Linked DNA regions of Homo sapiens: region 2 is linked to region 1. Evidence: fine-mapped expression QTL. A gene starts in region 1. The other region holds a variant in brackets. All regions are shown on one strand. Distances are between the middles of the regions. Region 1 holds the start of ATOH8 (atonal bHLH transcription factor 8). Region 2 has its middle 26 kb from the start of ATOH8.

The links. PIP is the estimated chance that this variant, and not a neighbour inherited with it, causes the effect.
Region 2: its variant is fine-mapped to the expression of ATOH8 in whole blood (TOPMed, PIP above 0.99). The same link has a PIP of 0.9 or more in monocytes.

What each region holds. Positions count from the first base shown.
Region 1 is chr2:85,747,873-85,759,332 of GRCh38, reverse strand. It overlaps ATOH8 (atonal bHLH transcription factor 8), which reads right to left and starts at 5,342. Exons shown (of 3, transcript NM_032827.7): 1 at 4,376-5,342. The coding sequence starts at 5,143. RefSeq lists a silencer at 8,453-8,673.
Region 2 is chr2:85,721,913-85,733,372 of GRCh38, reverse strand. It overlaps the pseudogene RNU1-38P. Among named protein-coding and RNA genes, the nearest start is that of ATOH8, 26 kb to the left of the region's middle. The variant A/C (reference allele first, on the strand shown) is at 5,469.

The DNA of each region.
Region 1 (11,460 bases):
GAAGGCCTCTGTCACCCTTACCTACCTGCATGGAGCCCCCAGTGCAAGCAGGCCTGTCCCTCGTTGCCCGAGAGGATGGTGTACAGGCTGCTTTGCACTCCCTATGCCCTCCTTGCACCCTGTGGGGTTTCAGAGTGAGGGAGGTGCTGAGGGCACCATTCCCACGCCCTCTCCAGGGCCACCCTGAGTTCACTCGGTGAAGACCCCCTGGGAAGCTCCAGGGGCAGCAGGGGAGGTAGCCCGGGCCCCAGGTGCTTGGCATGTCCTCCGTAGAGAGGACCACGGCAGAAGCCGGGGCCCCGCACTGTCTTCCATTGCTGCCATCCTCCATCAACCCTGAGGGACCCTGAAGGGAGAGAGGAAATCCACACGCACACCACATGCCCCAAGGGTGGGCACAGCTTGTGAGACAGAAGGTCCTGCCACTCTGGCCCCTTCCCTCACCACCCCTCAAGGCCAGCCTTTCCCTTTGACCCCTCCCACCTGGCAGGGAGCAGCCCCACTCCCGGGGCCAGGCCAGCTGTGCACACATGGCCTTCACATGAGGCGGCAGGGAGGGCTCTGGTGCAGCTGCGCTGGTGGCATGTGCTGGGGCCTGACCATCTGCCCTGCACCACCCAGCCCAGACCAGACCAGACCAGAGGGCCTCTCTCCCACCTGCACCTCCCCACCTGCGGCCCTGCAGCCACCCTCCCTGCTCCCTTCCTGGTTGAGAGGACAGTGGATTATGACACAATGGGAGCCTGTCTGGCTTCCTCATGCTGAGGGTAGATGGCTCCAGGACATTAGACAGGCTGAGGAGCAGAGCTGTTAGGAGTCTGGGCCCTGGGAGCCCAACCCAAGCTCCGCAGCAACAGCGGCACACAGCTACGCAGGCTGCCACTGTACATGACCACGAGGCACCGCCACCCTGGAGGCTGGCAAACTGCGTGCCAAGGTAGCATGTAGCACAAAACCCACAAGGCCACGTGCAGTGGCAAAAGACCGGGACAACTTACATAAGCTCTCTGAAACTCAGTGTCACCATCTGTGAAACAGGGCAGGGGGTGCAATAATATCTATTTCATTAAATGAACTAATACACATAACAAGCTTAGCACCATGCCTGGCACAAAGTAAGCATGTGATGAATGCTAATTTCTGTGACAGTTATTAAAACAATTAAAGAATTCTTATTGCTTCATCTGTCGAGAGCCTTGCCCAGCCCTGAGGACCTTGGAGATGCTTAAGAAATGTTCAGTGCTCTGGCTGTGCACAGTGGCTCATGCCCGTAATCCTAGCACTTTGGGAGACAGAGGTGGGTGGATCACCTCAGCCCAGGAGTTCGAGGCCAGCCTGGGCAACATGGTGAAACCCCCATCCCTACTAAAATACAAAAAATTACCCAGGTGTGGTGGTGCGCACCTGTAATCCCAGCTACTCGGGAGGCTGAGGCAGAAGAATCACTTGAACCTGGGAGGTGGAGTTTGCAGTGAGCTGAGATCACACCACTGTACTCCAGCCTGGTCAACAGAAAGAGACTCTGTCTCAAAAAAAAAAAAAAAAATGAAATGAAAGAAATGTTCACTGCTCTTATAGGCCTCCTACCTTTCCTCACTTTCTCTTCTCAACACTGGATGAGGTCAGCAATATTACCATTTTACAACTTCAGCAACTGAGGCCCAGAAAGGGTCAGTGACTTGTCCACAGCCACACAGAAGGCATGCAGGGGAGGAACAACTCAATGCCTGGCCTCCAGTTTCCCAGATCAGTGCTTCTTTCATGGTACCAGGAAGCTGCTCAGGAGAATGAAGCCCCAGGCCAGAGCCACAATCCCAGAACCCATCTCAGTGCCACACTGGCCAAGGCCCCATTTCAGGCGGAGCTGATCTGCCTTTTGTCCATTTCCAAGGACCCATTTCAGTCAGGCCCGAGCCTAGCTCCAGAGCTGCAGCTCGTCTGGATTCGGGGAGGGGGTGCGGAGTACATTTTACAGAGAAGACTGAGGCCCAGAGGAGGAAGGGGCTCCTCCAGAACACAGGACTTCCTCTATCGAATGGGTGCCATGGTGGTGAGGAGGACATGGTGGGTGTGGCCTTGGCCCCTGGTTCTATGACCAGAAACGTCCTGGCTGTATTTCTTTCCTTCCCAGCTAACAGGCAGGTGCCCACTATGGCCTGGCAGCCTTTCTGGGGAAGGGGCAGAATGGCTAGGGCAAGGAGGAAACAAACAGGAACAGGTGCTTCTGTGACCATGCATTTGTGTGTGCTCTTGAGCACGTGTAAGGAGCATGTGTGTGTGTACCTGCCTGTGTGTTTGCATTGCATACACACGCTCTCCCTGAGAGGGCATGGGTGTGCCTTCTACTTAGATACACTGAACTTGCCCTTTTTATAGAGAACTTCCCACGGTAAGGGGGGAAGTAAAAGGAGACCAGGATGAACAATCTCATCTCAAAGGGTCTGCCAAGTGTGCACCCTGCCTTGATTGTTAACAAACATCACAGGCTGGGGGCTGGGGGGGTGGCACATGACGCTGATACAGATGGCACTGTGGGAAGCATTTGGCCAGGAGGGCATTCCAGAAACTGCTGTTATCTTCCCTAACCCACTAGGTGACCTTGGACAAGTCTCCTTCCATCTCTGGGCCTCAGTGTTCCATACTATAAAATGAGTTAATCCAATTTCGACAGGGATTATGTTTAGATCAAATGAGATGGAATTGATTGTTGAATGAAGTAAAAGTCAGTGGGCACATGAGATGTAACAAAGCACTCAGATGAGTATTCTCTCAGCATACAGAGGCAATAGAGGAGCACAAGGGCCCAGAACCTGCAGTCAAAGCCCCTAGGTGCCAGCCCTGACCTGCTACTCAACAGCTATGAGGCTCTGGGCACGTGCCTCCCCAGTCTAGGAGGGGCTTCCCTAGTGGCAAGGTGGGCAGGTGGACAGGCATCTCTCTGCCCTTCTGTTATCCTTCTGTCCTGGGGAGTGGGTTGCAGGATCCCCCACGCACCGCCACCTCTACCCAGCGATGCAGACACAGAGCTGCTGGCTCAGGGTGGGACTGACTGCTCCACTGGACCCACCGCCCAGGGTTCCAGCTGGTGTGGATGAGGGCAGAGGCCCAGCCTGGTCTGTGACAGCCACCCGTCCCCCACCCCCACCCCCACCCCACCTCACTGACCACTTTCCCCAAGCCCAAGCAAGACACTTTGGCTCAAAAGTCATAGGGCCTCTTTCCTCCAAGGATTCAATTTCCTTTCCATGGATGGACACAGGCACTACTGCCCCACCCCACCCCAACCCCCAGCAGGAAGAGGAGAGTGATCCAAAAAGAAGATCATGGTTTCTGAAATGTTTTGTTGCTGGATAAAGCCCAGAGAAGTTGAGCAACATTCCTGGAGTCACACAGCAAGTCAGCTGCAGAGTATGCAAATAAAAAGAAAAAAAAAACACCCTTCAAACCAGCCACATCTACCCTAACCCTTCCCCACGCCCTGTGTGGGGGTGGGAGAGAACTCACCACCTCCTTCCTAGAGCTCCTTCTCGCTAAGAAAATAAGAAGCCTAGAAGCCCAAGCGATTGTCCCGCCCCACCACGGGTAATTCTTGGGTTAAGTATTCTTCCGCTACCTGCGCAGGGGCACTGTCTGGTGAGGGCAGCCCGCACCAGCCCCAAACTAAAAAGTCCCGGACCCACCCCAGAACTAGGCTCTGAAGATGCTCCAGAGGGAATCCCCAACCTAGGCAGTCCCCTCGGCAGAGCTGCCTGCTTCACCACGGGTGAAAGGAAGGGATCTGCTAGAAAGACTCCCACCAGCCGATTCCTGAGCCCACCCCTGGGGAGAGGGCACAGGCTTGTAGCGCGGGTTCTTGAGGATGCCAGGGCAAGGAGTGCATAGCCCGGAAGCAACCTGAGTGTTCGGGGCATCACCGCTGGGGCCTGAAGAGGGGCTGACAACTCCCCCGGACTGTCCCACCGCAGCGTTCCGGACCTTGCCACCACCAACTGGAGAAGGCTCCCCCCTTCCTCCGCTGACAGATTCCCACATTTCCCCTCTCCACTCCGCACCGCGCCCAGGGGACTCCGGCAGGCAAATACTCGCTGCCATAAAAGTGAACTATGGAGGCTGAAGTCAGAAGCGCAGACAGCGTTACCCCCGAGGCGGGGGTTGAGGGCGGGGGGTGCTCGGGCCAGAGATAACCAACTCTTATAGCCACTTTGAAAACTATGATCCATACCCTAGGACTGCCCACACCTGTCTGGGCACCAGGGTCGGACCGGGCGGGGCAGCTTGCCCCTTAAACACACCTCTATCCCGCCCCGGCCACTCGCCCACCCATTCCCGCAGTCGTCCCCCGGCGCAGTGAGGGCGTGCGGCGGCGAGCGGGTACCTGCTTCCTGAGCGCCTCGAAGGCTGCGCTGATGGTGTGCACCCGCGTCCGCTCCCTGGCGTTCGCCAGGAGCCTCCGGGTCTGCTGCAGGGCTTTGATCTCGGAGGAGGCGGCAGTCGCTTCGCCCGGTCGTTTCCTAGGCGACGCGGAGGAATCCTGGTGGTTATTGTAAATTACGTGTGAAATTGACGAGTAGGAACTTTCCCCGGGGCGCGTCGGGGGCGCAGGGCGCACAGTGGACTCCGGGGGCGCTGGCGGTGCTGGGGGTGCTGACGGCGCGGGGCGCGCGGGCGGTGCGCACAGCAAGATGCGAGGACGCAGACCCGGCTCCCGGAAAGGCTGTGCCTCTGGGCCCCCAGGTGCCTGGCTCTGGGGCGCAGGAGGCGGCGGCGGCGGCGGCGTGGGGAGTCCTGGCCCCACTGCGCCTAGGGCGAAGCAGCGTTTCCGCGCGTCGGAGACCTCGGGCGCCCGAGAGCCCCCGCGCTCCCCGGCTGTGTCCGTGCCCCCTCTTGGGGGAACGGCCGGCGCCACTGGGACTGGCACCGGCACCGGTACCGGGACCGGCTGCAGCCGATGGGTCCTGTCCCGCAGCCCGTTGGTGGCTACGGCGCGGGGCTCGGGCGCTTCCAAGTCCAGTCGGAAAGTTTTATAGCCGTTCGCGCGCCGCGCCGGCTCCTTGCCTTTCCGCTTGAGCTTCTTAAGGCCGTTCAGCTCCTTCACGCACACGGTCTTCCACGGCCCGTCCTCGAGGACCGGGATGTGCTTCATGGCGCGGGCGGCGCGCGAGGCAGGGGCGTGGGGCTGCCCGGGCCGCCGCCGCGCTCAGCGCCGAGGAGTCTCTGGCTCTCCCGCTTCGCCCGCCCTCCCCCTCCCTCTCTCCCTTTCTCCCCCTCGCCCCGGGCAGCTGCGCCGCCGGCTTCGGGAAGCCGCCGGGCTGTCCGTTCCCGGAGCGCTCAGAGTGTCATCTGAAGTCGCTGCCTCCTTGCCAGCATTTCTGGAGAACGCCCGCTGCGCTCCATCTGTGTTTGTTTAGCCTCAGTTTACACAGAAGCCCAGTTCGCGAGATCAGTCAGCGCCGCCGCCCGGAGAGGAGGCAGCTCCCGCCGCCACCGCCTCCCCAGCCCGGGCCGCCCGAGCCGCGAGCGCCTTTAAAGAAACAGGAAGCATTTTTCAAAACAGCTGGGCCGCCGGCCGCCTCCTTTGTCCGCGGGCTCCCTACCTCCCCCCCACCCCCATCCCCTTGGCCCAGAACCTGCCTCCTCCGGCGCTCCCTCCCCGCCCCTACTCTAGTCGGGGGCGCTTCTATGTTCCCAGAGGACAGTCCGCTCCTGCACAACCGCCCCGAGCACGTGACTTATGGGCCCCCGGCCCTTCCCCAAATCACAGCGGGGCCTTTTCTCCCTGGCCTTGCCGGCCTCTCGGTGACGCAGCTCCGACCTTGCCCACCCGGCACCTTCCCGCCGCTCCCTCCGCCCCAACTCGCCACGAGACAGAAAACGCCGGGAGCTGGGACTTCTGCTGGGGGCCGATGGGGAAGGGGAGACTCCGGAGTTGCCCGGCGACCCACACCCGCCCGGCACGGCAACCCAGTCCACTCTCACTTGCTGGAGCGGGAAAGCAAGAGGAGCAGAGGGCTTAAGACAGGGAAACTGAGTTTCCGAAAGCTCCAAAGTCACGCAGCAAGTCACAGAGGCAGAGGAGGGTGGAAGCTTCGGATTTAGGCAGACCTAACGTCTGCGAGCCTCCGCAGTCACCTCACTCCAGGCGCCCTGCTAAACCGGGATTTACTCATCTGTGAAATGAGAAATTCGGAGAACAACGCCTAAGTCACAGCATTGCTCTGAGGAATTAAAGCACTAGGCACATAGGAACGGGTCGTCAAATGGTAGCTGTGGTTGTTGTTAGTATTATTTATTGAGGCAAAACAGCTACTTGAGGCAGATTTCCTGGGCTCAAACCCCAGCTCTGCCACTCACTGAATGACCTTGGGAAAGTCACTTAACCTCTCTGTGCCTCCCTTTCCTCACCTGTAAAACGAGGGTCATAATCGTACCTTCCTCCCCAGGCGGTGTGAAAAGCGTGTATGCGCAAGGCACTCAGAGCAGTGCCTGGCACCAGGTGAGAGCTTTGCAGGTGCCCACGGTTATTGGCAAGGGGCAGAGGTAGACCCCCCAGACCCTCAGTCATCAGTGCCATTCCACTGGAGATTCTGGAAAGAAGGGGTCAAACTAGTAGGCCCTCAGATGTCCTTGCCAGAGGACTGCTTCCCAGCCGCTCCCTTCCGAGGCTCAGAACAGGGCTTCACTCCTTGCTGGTCCCTTCTCTGTGACTGTTACTCCTTAAGGAAGGTGGACACTAAAAGCCAGCAAGGTGGTTTGGGAGAAGATGGACCCTTGACCCTGGCCTTGAACTCTGATGAAAACACAAGGGCTCACACAGAGTGGAGTGCTTCTCTCCTCCATGGGAGAATGCCTAGGGGTGGAGGAGGCAGATGGCACGCAGGGTGCTGGGAGGTGGGATGGGGATCTGGGCATAGCTTTGGGGGCAGGAGCATGGAGCTCCAGCCAGCAGCCCCGGTTGAGCCTTGGTTTGTCAACGACGGAACCCCATGACCACGAGCAAGACGTTTCCTCCCACCGTCACTCTTTTCTGTCTTTGAGGATATTTCCAGCCAACCTTCTCAGGGTAGCTGGGAAAGGACAAAGAGATGGATGTCAAAGGACTTTGACATAAGACTTCAAACATAGACACACACACACACACACACTGAGGCATGCAGTTTTCTGAATATAGTAAATGCAAAATCTCATTTTGCCACCAAGGTGGGTGCCAGCATCATAAAGCATGTGCTCCCGGAGACATCGTCTTCCCTGGACACCTGCATATTCCTGCACCTTATCTCTGTCCTGGAGACCAGGTGTGTGCTGCCAAAGAGGAGCCCTCATTCTCCTGTCGTTTCCCTGCTCAGCCTCGAACCCTAAAGTTCTGGCCTTTGCTCCCAGGTCTCCCACGGCTCCCCTTTGCAACGCACACTCTTCCTCACCCTTCGATGAACAGCTCCGGTCCCCCTCCTCCCGCGAACCTTCCCTGCTCACCATAGCCTCCAATTGCTCTTGCTGGCCTGTGTGCATGCTTGCTCAAAAGTCCTGCTGCAACTTAGCCTCCACTGCAGCCCTGTTGGAACTCCTGGGCTTGTGCGTTCCTCAAAGGCGCACTCTTGCCTTCCTCCCTGTCTCTAAAGGCTGGTGCTCAGGAAACCTCTGATAAGGACAAGCAACCCTCGTGCCCTTTACACTCCTGTCTGGAGACCCAGTCCTCCTGTGCATCCAGCCAGTCAGTGGCAGAGATGGAGGAAAAGTGACACTCCTTCTCCAGGGCTGCTCAGGTACTCTCTGAGCTTCAGTAGCTTCCTCTGTAAAACGGGAGTAATGATACCGTGCCTCACACGGCTGCAAGGACTCAAAGACGCAGCATGTGCAGCATGTGGCATGATGCCTAGAGTCTAGGGAATGGTGACCTTGGGCATCCTGGGTCAGCCAGCTGCTAAGGCCCCCTTGCATCCCAGACTTGGGTGTAGCTGAAGACTGGGGTGCCCGTGGCTGGTGAGGTTGTGTGAGAAGTCTCTAGCAGGACTGAATTTTGTCCTTAAAGAGGCCAAGCTGTGTCTGGGAAAATCACATCTTGGCTGAATACCAAAGGATCCACTCATACTGATCCTAAGCCCCGTGCCAACTTCCCCCCAAATAGAGGAGAAGGTCACCGAGATCCCATGGGGCAGGAGGAGGCGAAGGGATTGGATAGGAATGATCAGCCATGCAGGGTGGAGGTAGAGCAGGGCTCCAAGCCGGGCTACAGGCTTCCAGACAGGCTCTTTCTCCTCAACATGCTGCCTCTCCCGCTGGCCAAATGCCAGGGCCCCAGAGTTGGCAACAGGCAAGCCCAGAGGGATCTTCACCTTGTCACGTACCAGGTGTGTGACCTTGAGCAGCTCCCTGACTTCTCTGAGCCTCTGTTCACTATCTGGGCATCATCTCTTGAGTCTTGAGATGGAATGGTGTGTGTGGGAACAGGCGACAAATTGTAAAGAGGCCGATTGATGTGGAGTCCCTGCTATTGCCATTGTCAGCCTGCCAGGTTGCAGACCTTCCAGGTCCAGGCTGGCTGCCCACGCCCCACCAGCCTAGGGGTCAAACCTGTCTTCCAAGGGCTCTCACTTCTGCCTTCCTCAGCCTTGCTGAGAATTGGGGCAGAGACCAGCTGGGCAGCACCCCCTGGTGGTATCACACTATTGGGACTGCACACAACACTGCGGTCTCCCCATGAGGAACTTTTGCCCATTGTGGTGGCCCTGTAATGACAGTAATGTGGATTTCATGAATTCATAGACTTTCCAGGATAAAAAGTCTCCCAAGGCTCCATTTGGCCCTACTCACACCTTTGGATGGTACAATGCAGACGACACCCTATGCCCTTCATTAAAAACATCGCCCACTGAATTAACCATTTGAGGTGACCCTGGGATCGAGGGATGTTGTCACTGGAAGATTCCATACCCCTTTGGATGGCTGGTCTAGGGAAAAGGAATAAAGATAAAAAGGGAAGGCAAAGCAAGAGCTTAGGGGTCAGGCCACTGGGAACAGATATTAGAAAGTCAGGCAATCGTTAATTCTTTAATACTGCCATGCAAGGAGTGCATACAAACTCTATCTCACTAATCCTTATCATCACCCAGGGAAGTAAACCCACTCTACAGATAAGAAGACTAAGGCTCTTAGTGGGGAAAAAAATAATCTTGCCAACAGAAAGAACAGTCACTGGGTGCGGTGGCTCACGCCTGTAATCCCAACACTTTGGGAGGCCGAGGCTGGTGGTTCACAAGGTCAGGAGATCGAGACCATCCTGGCTAACACAATGAAACCCCGTCTCTGCTAAAAATACAAAAAAATTAGCCGGGCATGGTGGCGGGCGCCTGTAGTCCCAGCTACTCGGGAGGCTGAGGCAGGAGAATGGCGTGAACCCAGGAGGCGGAGCTTGCAGTGAGCCGAGATCACGCCACTGCACCCCAGCTTGGGCAACAGAGCGAGACTCCGTCTCAAAAAAAAAAAAAAAAAAAGAACAGTCATGGGATTTGAACCCAGGCCAACTGACCCCAAAACCCAAGCTCTGAACCACTGTGTCCGCTGCCTCCTGAGAGCTCAGTGACTAGCATCTGGGAGGTGATAACTGGGCCACCTATAGGGCTGGCCTGTGTAAGCCAGCTCTTCCTGCTGTGCTGCCAGCCTGGTGGGCTTCTTGCTGTCAACCTCTCAGCTGGAGCCACTGGCCTCCCTTGGTCCAGCACAGTGCACTTCTAGCTCCTTCTAGTCAGGGTCAGATGGCAAGGGCATATAGAGCCCAGATCTTGGTATCCAGGCACTGGAGCCCTCCCTCCTTGCAAGTGGAATCTGCCCAGCAGTTCCTTGGTGCACACACCACCCGAGTGCAGACAGGACAGCCCTGCAGGCCAGTGATTAGCTGCTTCTTGGCCGGATAGGATGGAACCTTGGATGCTTGCTACATGAAGCTCTGCATTCCTGAATCTGGAGTCCCTATTTATGGCTGTTCAGATTGTTCCAAAGTAGGTGTGGCACCCGTTAGAGAAAGGGAGGAAGAGTGGAAACTAGACTGCCATGAGGAAACTCTCCTAGTGGAAACAGACACAGCATGAATGGTGCCCCCCTGGGGTGGTACTCACAGCAGCTCCAGAAAGGGCCAACCAGGGGAATAAGAAGAATCCAGAGTTCCTCCCCGCCTCCCATTCACAGTGCTAGCACTGCCACCATTAACCAGCAGGACATTGGATCCAGAGGACAGTGATGAGGCATCCAGGCAGGAAGCTCTTTCAGACTCTCCTGCAATCTTCCTTCTACCTTCCTCTATTCAAGTGGCCATCCCAATTATGGAAAACCGAGTCTTTGGGGCTGGGCAGATGCCAGATAAGGGCACTCTCTCCCTGAGACCCGCTGTGTGCACCATCTCAGCACATGCTCTGTGTACCTTCTTAACACATGTGCAGAGGGCAGTGCCCAGGGGGTAGGGTTTAGTCCTGACTCTTGGTCAGAGTGGAAAGGGAGAGTGGGGAGGGAAAAAGGTCACGAGGGTTGTCAACAAAAAACAGGAGGAGGCTGGCATGACATATCTCCACACCATTGGCCAGGTGTCCTGTTAAAGCAGGACATATGTCATTTCTCTGCTTAAAACCTCCGCTTGAATTCTTTTGCTCGGATGTTCGTGGCTGCTATGAATTCCTTCCCTCCCTGCATGCATGGAGAGGTGGAGTCTGTCCCTCCATTGCTGGGAACCTGGGCTGGCCTGTGACTGCTCTGGCTAATGGAGCCCTGCAGAAGTGCTGCTGTGCTTTATGGAGACTGGCTGTTTAGGCTTCCGGCCAGTTGGAAGCCTTTAGTTGCTAAGTGAGAAACCCCGGTGGGTTCTGCTGAAGAGAGAGGCCACATAGAAAGCAACACAGTGCCAGACATATGAGTGAAGAAGGCTCTCAGCAGAACCTTATGGGTGCCTCCAGCCCCAGCCTCTAGCTGGCTGCAGCCCCATGGGGGAACCCACTAAAGAACCACCCGGCTGAACCCAGTCAACTAACAGAAACATGAGAAAGAATATTAAATGGTTGTGTTAAGCCACTACATTTTGGGGTGGTTTCTTATACAGAAATAGAGAACTGAAACATTCGAGTAGGAGCAAAAGTTGACATCTGGTCCCCCATTTCCTCTCTAACCTCATCCCCCGCCCTAGCCCATATACTCTGCTCTCACCACACAGGGCTCCCTGCCATTCCTTGAACCTACCCAGCAGGCTCCCACCTCAGGGCCTTTGCATTGGCTGTTTACTGTGCCTGAAATGCCCTTAGCTCGGGTAGCCTCAGGGTTCACTTCCTCACCCCTTTCTGGTGTTTCTATGTCCCCTTCTCAGTGAGGCTGTCCCTAATCACACTCTATGAAGTTTGTACCCTTCCCCTTCAGTATTATCTACCTCTTCCTTGCTTTATTTTCAATGGCATTTACCATCATCTGCCATACTATAGATATCAC
Region 2 (11,460 bases), 26 kb after region 1:
CCCCAGATCACTGACTGCCTGTGCAGTTCGTGATGGTGTGATGTCAGGTCAGAATTCTCCAGACACTTTCCATCTGGAGTCAACACTATCCTTGCAGCTGCTCCGAAGGCCACGCCCTGTGGCCAGCCATGGATGGGATCAAGTGTCCATCCTTCTGGAGGCCGAGCATAGGGCAGGCTTTGGAAGAACAAATTCAAAGGCGGCTTTTTTTCAAAGGACAAACTGAAAGCCAGTAGAGGCTGAGGGAACAGAGAAGCACTTGTGGGGTGGAAGGGCAGAAACTCTGAGCCCAGAGGGAGCAGGGAGAGGCCTGCCAAGCCCAGGGCTAGGCCAGGAGTGCTGGGGAAGGGTGTTGAGGGGGAAGCCAGAGACCATGGAGAGAGAGATGAATGCAGATAGGAGTCTCTCTCTCTCTCTCTCTCTCTCTCTCTCTCATGCACACACGCACACATGTGGACTTTCATAACCCATCCCATCCTCTATGTTCTTTGAGTTTTGCTCTGCCAGGAACACCCTCTGTCTACGTGGAGAATTCCTTTCACTCTTCAGAGGACCACTAAAATGTCACCTCCTCTGTGAAATGTCCTCTCCAGGGGCCCCACCCTCTCCCCAAACAGATTCATCAGTGCCATCCTTGGGTTCCAGCAGCCCTGCCACCCCACTGAGCTAACACCACTGTGCTAGCAGATGGCCTCACAGCCCACACATCCAGCTCCCTGACCAGGAGGACCTCAGGGCAGGCCAAGGAGGCATGGCAGAGCTCAGGCTGAGCAGGCCTGACTGGGTCCTCTGTAGACACATAGTCACTTCTTTGCCCAGTGCTGAGCACACAGCTGGGGCTCAAACAAATATTAGTTATAACTATTTGGCCAGGGCCAAATAATAACAGATTGTTATTGGTTGAATATACTTACATAGGCCTTTATCATAGGCCCACATGCAACCCCAAGCCACAGAGGTCTCTTTCCCGCTCTCTCTTCTGTGTCTTGGAGTTATATGGGGGTTGGTCTTCAGTGTGGGGGAAAAGTTGCAAAAAAAAAAAAGCAATCGAGGCCGGGCGCAGTGGCTCAAGCCTGTAATCCCAGCACTTTGGGAGGCCGAGGCAGGCGGATCACGAGGTCAGGAGATGAGACCATCCTGGCTAACACGGTGAAACCCCGTCTCTACTAAAAATACAAAAAAATTAGCTGGGCGTGGTGGTGGGCGCCTGTAGTCCCAGCTACTCGGGAGGCTGAGGCAGGAGAATGGCGTGAACCCAGGAGGCGGAGCTTGCAGTGAGCCGAGATCGCGCCACTGCACTCCAGCCTGGGTGACAGAGCGAGACTCTGTCTCAAAAAAAAAAAAAAAGCAATTGAGTTTTCTTAGAACAAACCAATGAAACCAAAGCTGCCCAGATGTTTCCCCCACCCAAGAAGCCTAATGAGGAAGAGGGAGGCCTGGGAGCCTGGAGGAAATTCCCTTCTGCACCCACCCAGACACATGGTGCCAGGCAAGGTGCAAGCTGCTTCACCCGTCAGAGCCTGGTAATAATATTCACAGCATTGTTGTAAGAAACAAATGAGATGACAGGTGACAAAGTGCTTGGCAAAAAAGTACAGCACGCCCACAGAATCGTCTCATGCAGCCCCATCTCTCCTTTCTCTCATTTCCAGTTCTAGAAAACTGGTGTCAGTTACAAAGGCCTTGAGGAACTCCATGAAATTGTCAACTGCTTGAATGAGGATCCCTGAATGTTCTGGAGACAACAACATAAAAGCAGAGAAACAGGTCCATATTCGGTACTCACTGAATGCTTGTTGATGAGATTACATTCTTAAGAAAGATTTCTAACTCCAAATGCTGAAAATTCAAATCTGTCAAGAGCGGCTGTTGACCCAGAATGGTTCAATTAACTGGAACTCCAGCCCTTGAACATTCTGGGTAGCCAGAAAGAATTCTCTCTGGGAAAATACAGGGCCAGCTCACAACAAGCGTGACTTCACCCTGTGCCCCCCAACACTGCAGGATAAGGACATGAAGCCAAGTACAAATGTCACACATCTTCAGGGAGAACCAATTTTATTCTGAAGTTTTTTGGGAGGATGAAAATTACCAACAAGAATTTCCCTCGTTCTAAGATCTGCATTTTCCCCATATTTTAACATTTAATATCTAATTTTAACATTTTAACATCTAATGAGATCATGTTTTTTGCTTCTCAAAAAAAGAAAAAAGGATACGTAAGGATTTATATATCCTTAAATCCATGGTGCCTGTTGCAGTGACATCACCTTAAGACTAAGCAAATAAACCAGTCACACAAATCGCTTTAAATGGAAATGCAAGTCATTAAAAAAGATTGTTTTTAATGATAAAACTTGCCAGGAGGCACTAAAAAGAAGGTGAAAGGCATGTGAACTTTTAAGAAAATGAATGAGAGGTCAAAAAAAAATGTTTTTCCTACGTTGGGCCACTGTATGTCATGCCCTGGCCTGCGTCCCTTCCCTCTCCCTTGCCCTTGGCCATGCTGCGGGGAAGAAGTCCGAGGATGGCTGCCGGACACTGCCACCTGGGACTCACCTGCCCAGAGGGAGACTGCCTGGGAAAAAAATTAATGGCCGGGTGCAGTGGCTCACTCCTGTAATCCCAGCACTTTGGGAGGCCGAGGCAGATGGATCACCTGAGGTCAGGAGTTCGAGACCAGCCTGGCCAACATGGTGAAACCCGTCTCTACTAAAAATACAAAAATTAGCCAGGCGTGGTGGTGGGCACCTGTAATCCCGCTACTCAGGAGGCTGAGACAGGAGAATCACTTGAACCTGGGAGGCGGAGGTTGCAGTGCCGAGATTACGCCACTGCACTCCAGCCTGGGCGACAAGAGCAAAATTCCTTCTCGGAAAAATAATAATAATAATAAATTAAAGATTGGCAAGGCAGGGGTGTCCCACGTGACACAGGAGCCTCATGGCCCTTTGGTGACACACCTGTGTCCACAATGCCTGTGGGGTGAGCACAAGTGAAGACCGCCAGGCTGCTGGGGGCAAATGGAGTGCCGCAGCCATGCCTGGCCTTCCCCTTCCACCTCCACTCCCCTCTGGGCCAATCTTGGGTGAGGACAGAGCTTCAGGGACCACACAGGTCATCAGCCAAAAATGAGTCCAGTTTGTCAAGGAGTTACCTCACCCAGCCAGACCCGCTTCAAACTTTTGCGGGAAGGACATGGCTAGGAGGAGAGCTGGAATCCCACTGGAATAATCCTGGCTGGTATAAGCCTGAGACCCTCCGTCCATGTCTTTGGAGAAGGAAGCATCTGGGCTGGTGCAAGCTCTCCTGTCACCCTTGGGGACAAAGGGTCGTGGCAGCTGTGGGCCCAGCCCGGAGTGGGTAGGCAAGGCTGGCTCTCATGCCCTCTGGCTTTGCCAGGTCCTGAAGCCCACTGACCCTGACCCTGGACCTCCTAATGACCTCCTAACCCCACCCCTAAAATTTCTACAATAAACCTGTTTATTTTTACAATCTCTCACCATCTTCCTGAGCCTAGGTTCGGCCTGCCTCAGCTATCCCAGCCCACATCCTGCCTGGGACTCAGAGGCAAACCTCACAATTTCGAGACCATCTGACATTCCTTCAGCATCTAATATTTTTCAACCTGGGACCATTTACCCAACATCCCTCTAGACCGGACTTCTCAGCCTCTTCCTGTGCCTCAGCTCACATGAAGGATGGCATTTGCAGGCAGCTGCACACCTCGGGCCACCTTTAAGCCAAATCCCTGGCTTCTAATTCCGCCCCTCTTTCTCCCACTTCGTGCTGCCTCCGAATCGCAGATGTCCGTCTATTATTGCACTTTGCATCGTGTACCTCGGTTACTTATTTAGGTGCCAGTCTCCCTTGGGGGCAAGTCCTGGGTTTTATAGAGGATTTTTTTTTTTAATCTCCGTGGCCCCAGTGACCAGCCCAGCATCTAACACACTGCTCACAGGAATCCTGTGTCCCTGAACCCTTCTCCCGGGCCAAGATCAGACCTGTTTGAGGAAGATGGAAAAAGTGCTCTGTGAGCAGGATTATGAAATGACAGGGATGACGTGAGGGGCTTTCGAAACCCTGGGAAGGAAGATGCCCACGTGAATGACAGCCCCTTGCTATTCTCGGCCACCCGAGGTTCAGGTTTTAACTCAGGACAGCTGCCCGGAGCCTGCAGTCAGCCGGGGACAGAGCCTCCCGCCAGCGCAGCAGACCTCTGCTGCCCCCTCGTGGTCCCGGGACCTCAGCCGAGTGGGGTCTCCAAAGGCTCCAGCTTCTCGTCTCTGGGAAACTTCTCAGCCGCAAGCCTGAAGACAGAGATTTCCACCTCACAGCTGCCTGGGGAATGCCTCTTTGCAACAGGGAACCAAGAGGAGCTAAGAGCAGGGCCTTAGGGGGTTTTCCATTCACAGCTTTGCAGTTTAACTCACAGTGTGACTTTCAGTGACCTCCTTCACCATTCCAAGCCTCAGTTTTCTCATCTGTAAAACAGAGATTTTAATATGAATCCTCCCTCATGGGTTTTGTACAGATCAAGGGAGATAATAAATGAAAATTGCTTAACACATAGTAAAGACCTGGCACATACAAGGACCCAGAGGGGTAGCTATTGCTATTATTATAATGAGGAGAATCTGGGTGACCCTCTCGTCCACCCTTCTATTCCCAGGACCTGGGGACTGCTCCTAAGTATCTGCTGAATGAGTGAATGTATTACAGGTGCTTTTGACTTTCTTCTTTCTACTTTCCATTCACGTGGGCATCTTCCTTCCCAGGGTTTCGAAAGCCCCTCACGTCCTCCCTGTCATTTCATAATCCTGCTCACAGAGCACTTTTTCCATCTTCCTCAAACAGTCCAATCTTGGCCCGGGAGAAGGGTTCAGGGACACAGGCTTCCTGTGGGCAGAAATTTTATTCTAAAATTTCTACAATAAACATGTTTATTTTTACAATCACAATAAATTTTAAAACTTTAAACAAGGAAATGTGTAAAGAAAAGGGAAAATGGGAGGGGTACACAAAGTTTATGCTCATGCTTACCTGACAGGGGAGATACCATGATCACAAAGGTGGTTTTCCCAGTGCGAGGCTCACCATTGCACCCCGGAGGTGCAGACCCCTGTGTTTTCCCCAAATGAGAAAAATAAGAAAAGAAAGAAAGAAAGTTTCGTCTTCCATTGGATCGACTCCATTCTCCTCCTCCAGGTGGTGATGGCAACGAGCAACAGGAACACACTCCTTCCCCAAACACCTCACCCTCCACCTTCTCAAATTGGCCCAAGTTTGGGCGGAAATGTTAGGCCACCCCAGGCGCAAAGCCCTGGCACTGGGCCGGTTTCCTGGAGTAGGTGGATCTGGGTTGGTGGGGGCTGTGGCAGTTCCATTCTGCTTCCCTGGGCCAGGCTTGGAGCATTGCGCTTGTCACAGGCTTTGGTCTTGCGGGTATTGAGGCCACCATGGGCCTC[A/C]TAATTATTTCCTTTGAGTGCAGATTATTTGCCAGCGCAGAGAGGTGGTGGCAGACCTAGCGTGGGGTGGGGGAGATGGACTGATGCAGACAGGGTCTCGTGGAGAACGCCGGCTCCTGTCACTCACAGGGGAGTGGAGTCAATTCAGAGGAGGATACATTTTTTGCACCCTCCCACTTTCCCATATTTTCCCTTTTATTTACCCATTTCCTCATTTAAAGTTTTAAAATGTATTATGATTATAAAAACAAACATGTTTATGGTAGAAATTTTGGAATATACAGGAAAGTAAAAAGAAGAAAGTCAAAAGCATCTGTAATACATGCACTCATTCAAGAGATACTTAAAGCAGCAGGGAATAGAATGGCGAACGAGAGACCCCATCTCAACCCTCCCAGAAATCATGCTTAGGTAGGGGATCCCATTACCCTGAGACAACCACTTACAATAGTTTCATATGCTTCCTTTAAGTTTTTTTCCATAAATATATCTAACCTATATTTAGTTATTTCAAAGCACACTGAGCTCATACCTATCTGCACCGATATATGCTATTTATCAAAAATATTCTATCACATGTATTGTTGTAATGGCTGAGTGTTCCAACACAGAAATGTAAAATAATCCATTTAACACATCTCGGGCTTTCAGTTATTAGCTTGCTTGCTTGTTTCCCATCCTTTTGTGATTCTAAATTACAATGTAATTAAAACATTTTAGGTAATGTATCTGATCTGCTATGACTATTTTCTCTGGAAAACAAATTATTAGATCAAATGGAATAAATATGAGAAGCAACACAAAAAAAACCACTGAATACTAATTATAAAGTAATACAAGCATTTTGAAAAATATTTAACAAAATACAGAAAAGTACAAAGAACAAAATAATGCTCACCTATAAGTCCACTACCTCCAGGTAACTACTATTAATATTCTTGATACATCGTTTTCCAGATTTTTATCTGCATATAAGGGTACTAAAATACAGTCTGGGCCCGGCGCGATGGCTTACGCCTATAATGCCATCACTTTGGGAGGCCGAGGCAGGTGGATCACCTCAGGTCAGGATACCAGCCTGGCCAACATGGTGAAACCCTGTCTCTACTGAAAATACAAAAAAAAATTAGCTGTAATCCCAGCTACTAGGAAAGCTGAGGCAGGAGAATCGTTTGAACCTGGGAGGTGGAGGTTGCAGTGAGCCGAGATCGCGCCATTGCACTCCAGCCTGGGCGACAAGAGCAAGACTCCATCTCAAAAAATAAAATAAAATAAAATAAAATCCAGTCTGACAGTCTTTGTATTTTAATTGGAGTTGTACACTTTTCTGTGCATATTTTTTCCAAAATGAGATTTTACTGTAAATATTTTGATTCTGTACTCTAATTTTTGGTGATATACTGTGAGTAATTTTCCATTATTATTGTTATTATTTTGAGACAGAGTCTCACTCTGTCACCCAGGCTGGAGTGCAGTGGTGCAATCATGCCTCACTGCAGCCTCAATCTCCCAGGCTCAAGTGATTCTCCAGCCTCAGCTTCCCAAGTAGCTAGAACTACAGGTGTATGCCACCATGACCAATTAATTTTTTTTTTTCAGTAGAGACAAGGTCTCACTATGTTGCCAAAGCTGGTCTCAAACTCCTGGGCTCAAGCAATCCTCCTACCTCAGCCTCCCAAAGTGCTGAAACTATAGACGTGAGCCACCACACCTGGCCCCATTTGTATAAATTCATTTCTATCACATCTTTTTTTTAAGCAATAGGGTCTGGCTCTGTTGCCCAGGCTGGTCTCAAACTCCTGGGCTCAAGCAATCCTCCCACCTCAGCCTCCAGAGTAGCTGGCACTATAGTCCAGCTATGGGCACACACCACCACACCAGCATCTACCACCTCGCTTTGAATGGCTGCACGGTATTCCACTATAATTATATACTATAACTTATTAAAATGTTCCTTTATTCTTAGACATTTAAGTTGTATACATCTTCTACTATTAGAAACCATGTTGTGATAAACATTCTTTTATGTGCATCTTTATGTGTCTTTGCTTTTTTAAAAGATTACTTGTCCCTCGAGTTCTCTGGTTATCCATTTCCAAACTAAAACCGTATATACTGACCATCCCATAAATAAGTTGTTGCTACCATACATTTTTGAAGTGTTCCTCTAGTTCCCTTCCTTGTTTTCCTTTCCCTGGAGCTTGTTCTGCTTTTGTTTGGCTTGGCTTTTTCTCTTGATATTCACATACAGGCTTTCCTCAATCATTCACTGACCTTTGGCTGTTATCTTCTATTTAAGGGGATGATACTAAAAAGCTGATTGGGAGTTTCCAGGTCAAGATGTCAGGTTGAGCCCACACATTCAACTTTTCTCCCTCCTGAAACCCCACCAGCATTATAGTAAAGAGATTGAGAAAATGCATATATAAACCAAAAGGATGGGGAAAACATAAGAGAGGGCATTGCAACCAAACTTTGGAAGCTGAAAGCAGATGAATGCATGGGGACTAGTTTAACAGAACCCAGGAAGAGCTGATGCTGAGGTGGGGAAAGCTGAGAAGAATACAGATCTGCACTGCAGAATCCTCAGGGGCTCAGGAACTGGCAGCCCCTGGAACTTCTAAGGTCAAGGCAAAGGGGGCCTGAATGGAGGAGGGTGAGGGGAAAGCTGTGTGGGAGGCCACCAGCACCCCAGATGCTCTCCCTTCCTCTGCAACACCAGGGAGCTGTCCTCCCCACCCAGCTGAGACCCAACCTGTCTTCTCTGGAAAGGGGGAAATTGAGGGTCTCCGCGGCTGGAGGTCAGCTGGCACAGGCGAGGGTGTGAGCTGCAGAAGAGAAACAAGGAGTTTTGCTGCCTGCTGCATGCTGAGCCACCCAGGGCAACAGCAGCTGGGTCCTTGCCTCCAGGCAGGAGATGAGGAAGCTCTGGGGAAGCCCAGCATACTGGAAAGTGTGCTTGGACAAACCTAAGTGTAGCTTAACCCAAAGCATCCGGCTTATACCCCTGAGAAGCCCAAGAGGAAAGCTCTAAAGCCCTTGACATCTGGCTTTCCTGCAGTAAGTGGCCCAGTGGCCCAGCATTGCCCTGCCTTGGACTTGAAGCTAACAAGCCCCCTCCTCAGGCTCAGAGGCTGATCTTCACTCTAATTGCAAGCAGATGGCCGAGAGCTACCTAGCACCAGTGGAATACCTCTCTCATCAGGGCCAGAGACACCAACCAACAGAATGAGAAACACCCAGGAACAGACAATGTGTACGAGAGAGACGAGAGGACAGTTACTAATGTTGATAATATTTATTTACTATCTTCAGAGACAGGAGAAAAGCTACTGTCTCCACCAAATAGGAGCAAGATACTGTTTTTAAAGGCTCACTGAGAGAATGTCTTAAAGCTTTTAACAGTGGGGGAAAAAAATGACAGCAGCAATGAAAAACTCGACAGGAAGTGTGGAAGATAAAATTGAGGAAATTTCCCTGAAAGTGTATAACAAAAAGAAAAAATGATGGAAAATCAGAGAAACCAAAATAGGAAGTCCAACATCCAAATTGCTCTTTCTGAAGAGTGATTTCAAAGAGATCAGAAAAAGAAAAAGGAAGGAACTAATAAAAAAAAATCTAAGAAAATTACTCAGAACTGAAAGATGTACATTTCCAGATTGAAAGAGCCTGCATGTGCCCAGAAAAATGGATGGAATCCCTACAGCAAGACACATCATTGTGAAATGTCATTGAGAGCACTGAGCAGCAAGGGGATGGGCCTGTATGGGTCAAGGTTCATGGCTGAAGACAACAGAATCCAAAAGAGAAAGGGATATAGTTAAAATTATTAGAAAGGTCAGGAAACCAGGAGGCTGAGGCAAGAAGATCACTTGAGGCCAAGAGTTGGAGACCAGCCTGGGCAACATAGTGAGACCCCCATCTCCACTTTAAAGTAGCCAGGTGTGGTTGTGCACACCTGTAGTCTCAGTTACTCAGGAGGGAGGTGGGAGGATTGCTTGAGCCCAGGAGTTTGAGGCTGCAGTGAACTATGATCACACCACTGCACTCCAGCCTGGGCAACAGAGCGAGACCCTGTCTCGTAAAAGCAAAGAAAGAAAGCTCAAAAATCATTAGACAGCTGGAGAAATAGGCTTTAGGTGGGCTTCCAGGAGCCTCCTATGACCCCACTGAATTGGCCTGATATGGAGCTGGTCTTGCTGGCACCCCAAAATCTCAGTTACGCTGGCTTCCCCATGTTAGCAAAATCACCACCCCAAGCCCCATCTCTGCTTCATACCCACTCTTGAGTCAAAATCTCAAGCATGAATGAACATAAACCTAAATGCTGTGAGTAGCCAGAGAAACTGGGAAACGTAGATTTCTAGATTCTACACAAAGAAGGCAATAGTCACAATGTGGGAAATTACATGGGGTGTTCAACAGGTTTGGCTGGCCACAGATGAAAATGTCTTCCCAAAGCGATGCACATACTCTATGGCTCTGTCTCCTCTGAGATCTGACACAGTCAGTGGCAATCAGATTCTCCCTCCAAGAATGTGGAATATTGACCTGAGAGCAAAGACTTGGAAGTGAGCTTGCTTTTAGCAATGCTCTAGGGTGAACAGTGCTGCCCCAAGTGTCATCTCAGGCTAGGGAAGATGCTGAAGTGTTTGTCATCAGTCTTCAACCAGGTAAGCACAGAAATTGAGTAAGCTTTTAGAAACTCTTATAGCAATTTGACAAAGTAACTTTATGTCTGTTAGACCCAATAATTTAAAATGGGGTTTGTTTTGTGCATGTTTTTTAATTTCATTTTTCCAGTCATTGAATTTTATGGCATCTCCAAAAGCACTGGAATATAACATTTGAAGTTTTTAAAGAGTTGGTCCTCCAACCACAGAATTTGAGCAGCCCAGCTCTACAGGGGAAGTCCTTGAATCTGCTGCTGACCGCCTGGATCTGGCCTTTCGGGCCCTGCTGAAGTTAGGTGGCCCTGCCCTGCCTCAGAAGCCATGAGGCACCCCCAGGCCCTTCTAATAAAGGCCCAGTAAGCTAGCCAGTGGTCGTTCTGGTAATTGCCACTGAAAGGATTTTAATTAATACAATCATTAATCCCACTCTGCAGCTATGAAAAACAAGGCTCACAGAGGTTACGTAAGTTGCCCACTAGAAGGCCCAAAACTAGAAACAAGCAGAAGCCAGGATTGCAGCCAAAGTCAGCCTGCTTCCGAGTCTCTGCGCTTCCACTGTGCTGAACTTTAGAGCAACAGCCACAAGGATTCAGAAATATTTTTCTTTTTTCTTTTTTTTTTTTTTTTGAGACAGAGTCTTGCTCTGCCACCAAGGCTGGGGTGCAGCAGCATGATCTCGGCTCACTGCAACCTCCACCTTCCGGGTTCAAGTGATTCTCCTGCCTCAGCCTCCCAAGAAGCTGGGATTACAGGTGTGCGCCACCATGCCACATTAATTCTTGTATTTTTAGTAGAGGAGGGGTTTCGCCATGTTGGCCAGGCTGGTCTCAAATGCCTGGCCTCATGTGATCCACTTGCCTCGGCCTCCCACAGTGCTGAGATTATAGGCATGAGCCACGCCCAGCCGGAAAGATTTTTCAGTATTAGTGAAGGATGGGAAAAGAGGACTCTTAAATATTGTTGGTGGAAATGCAAACTGGTATTAAAAAAAAAAAAGTTTTGGGAGGAAATAGTGTATTATTAGTCAGGGTTCTCCAGAGAAACAGAATCAACAGGACACACACATATATTACATATATGTAAGGAAATTTATTATAGGAAGAGGCTCATGTGATTATGGAGGCCAAAGAGTCCCACCATCTGCTGTCCATAAGCTGGAGAACCAGAAAAGTCAGTGGTGTAATTCAGTCCGAGTTCAAAGGATGGACAACCAGGGAAGCCAGTGGTGTAAGTTTCAGTCTGAATTCTAAGGCCCAAGAGCCATCCATTCCTGAAGCACTCATCACTATCTATATTTGATGACACCCAAATTTGTACCT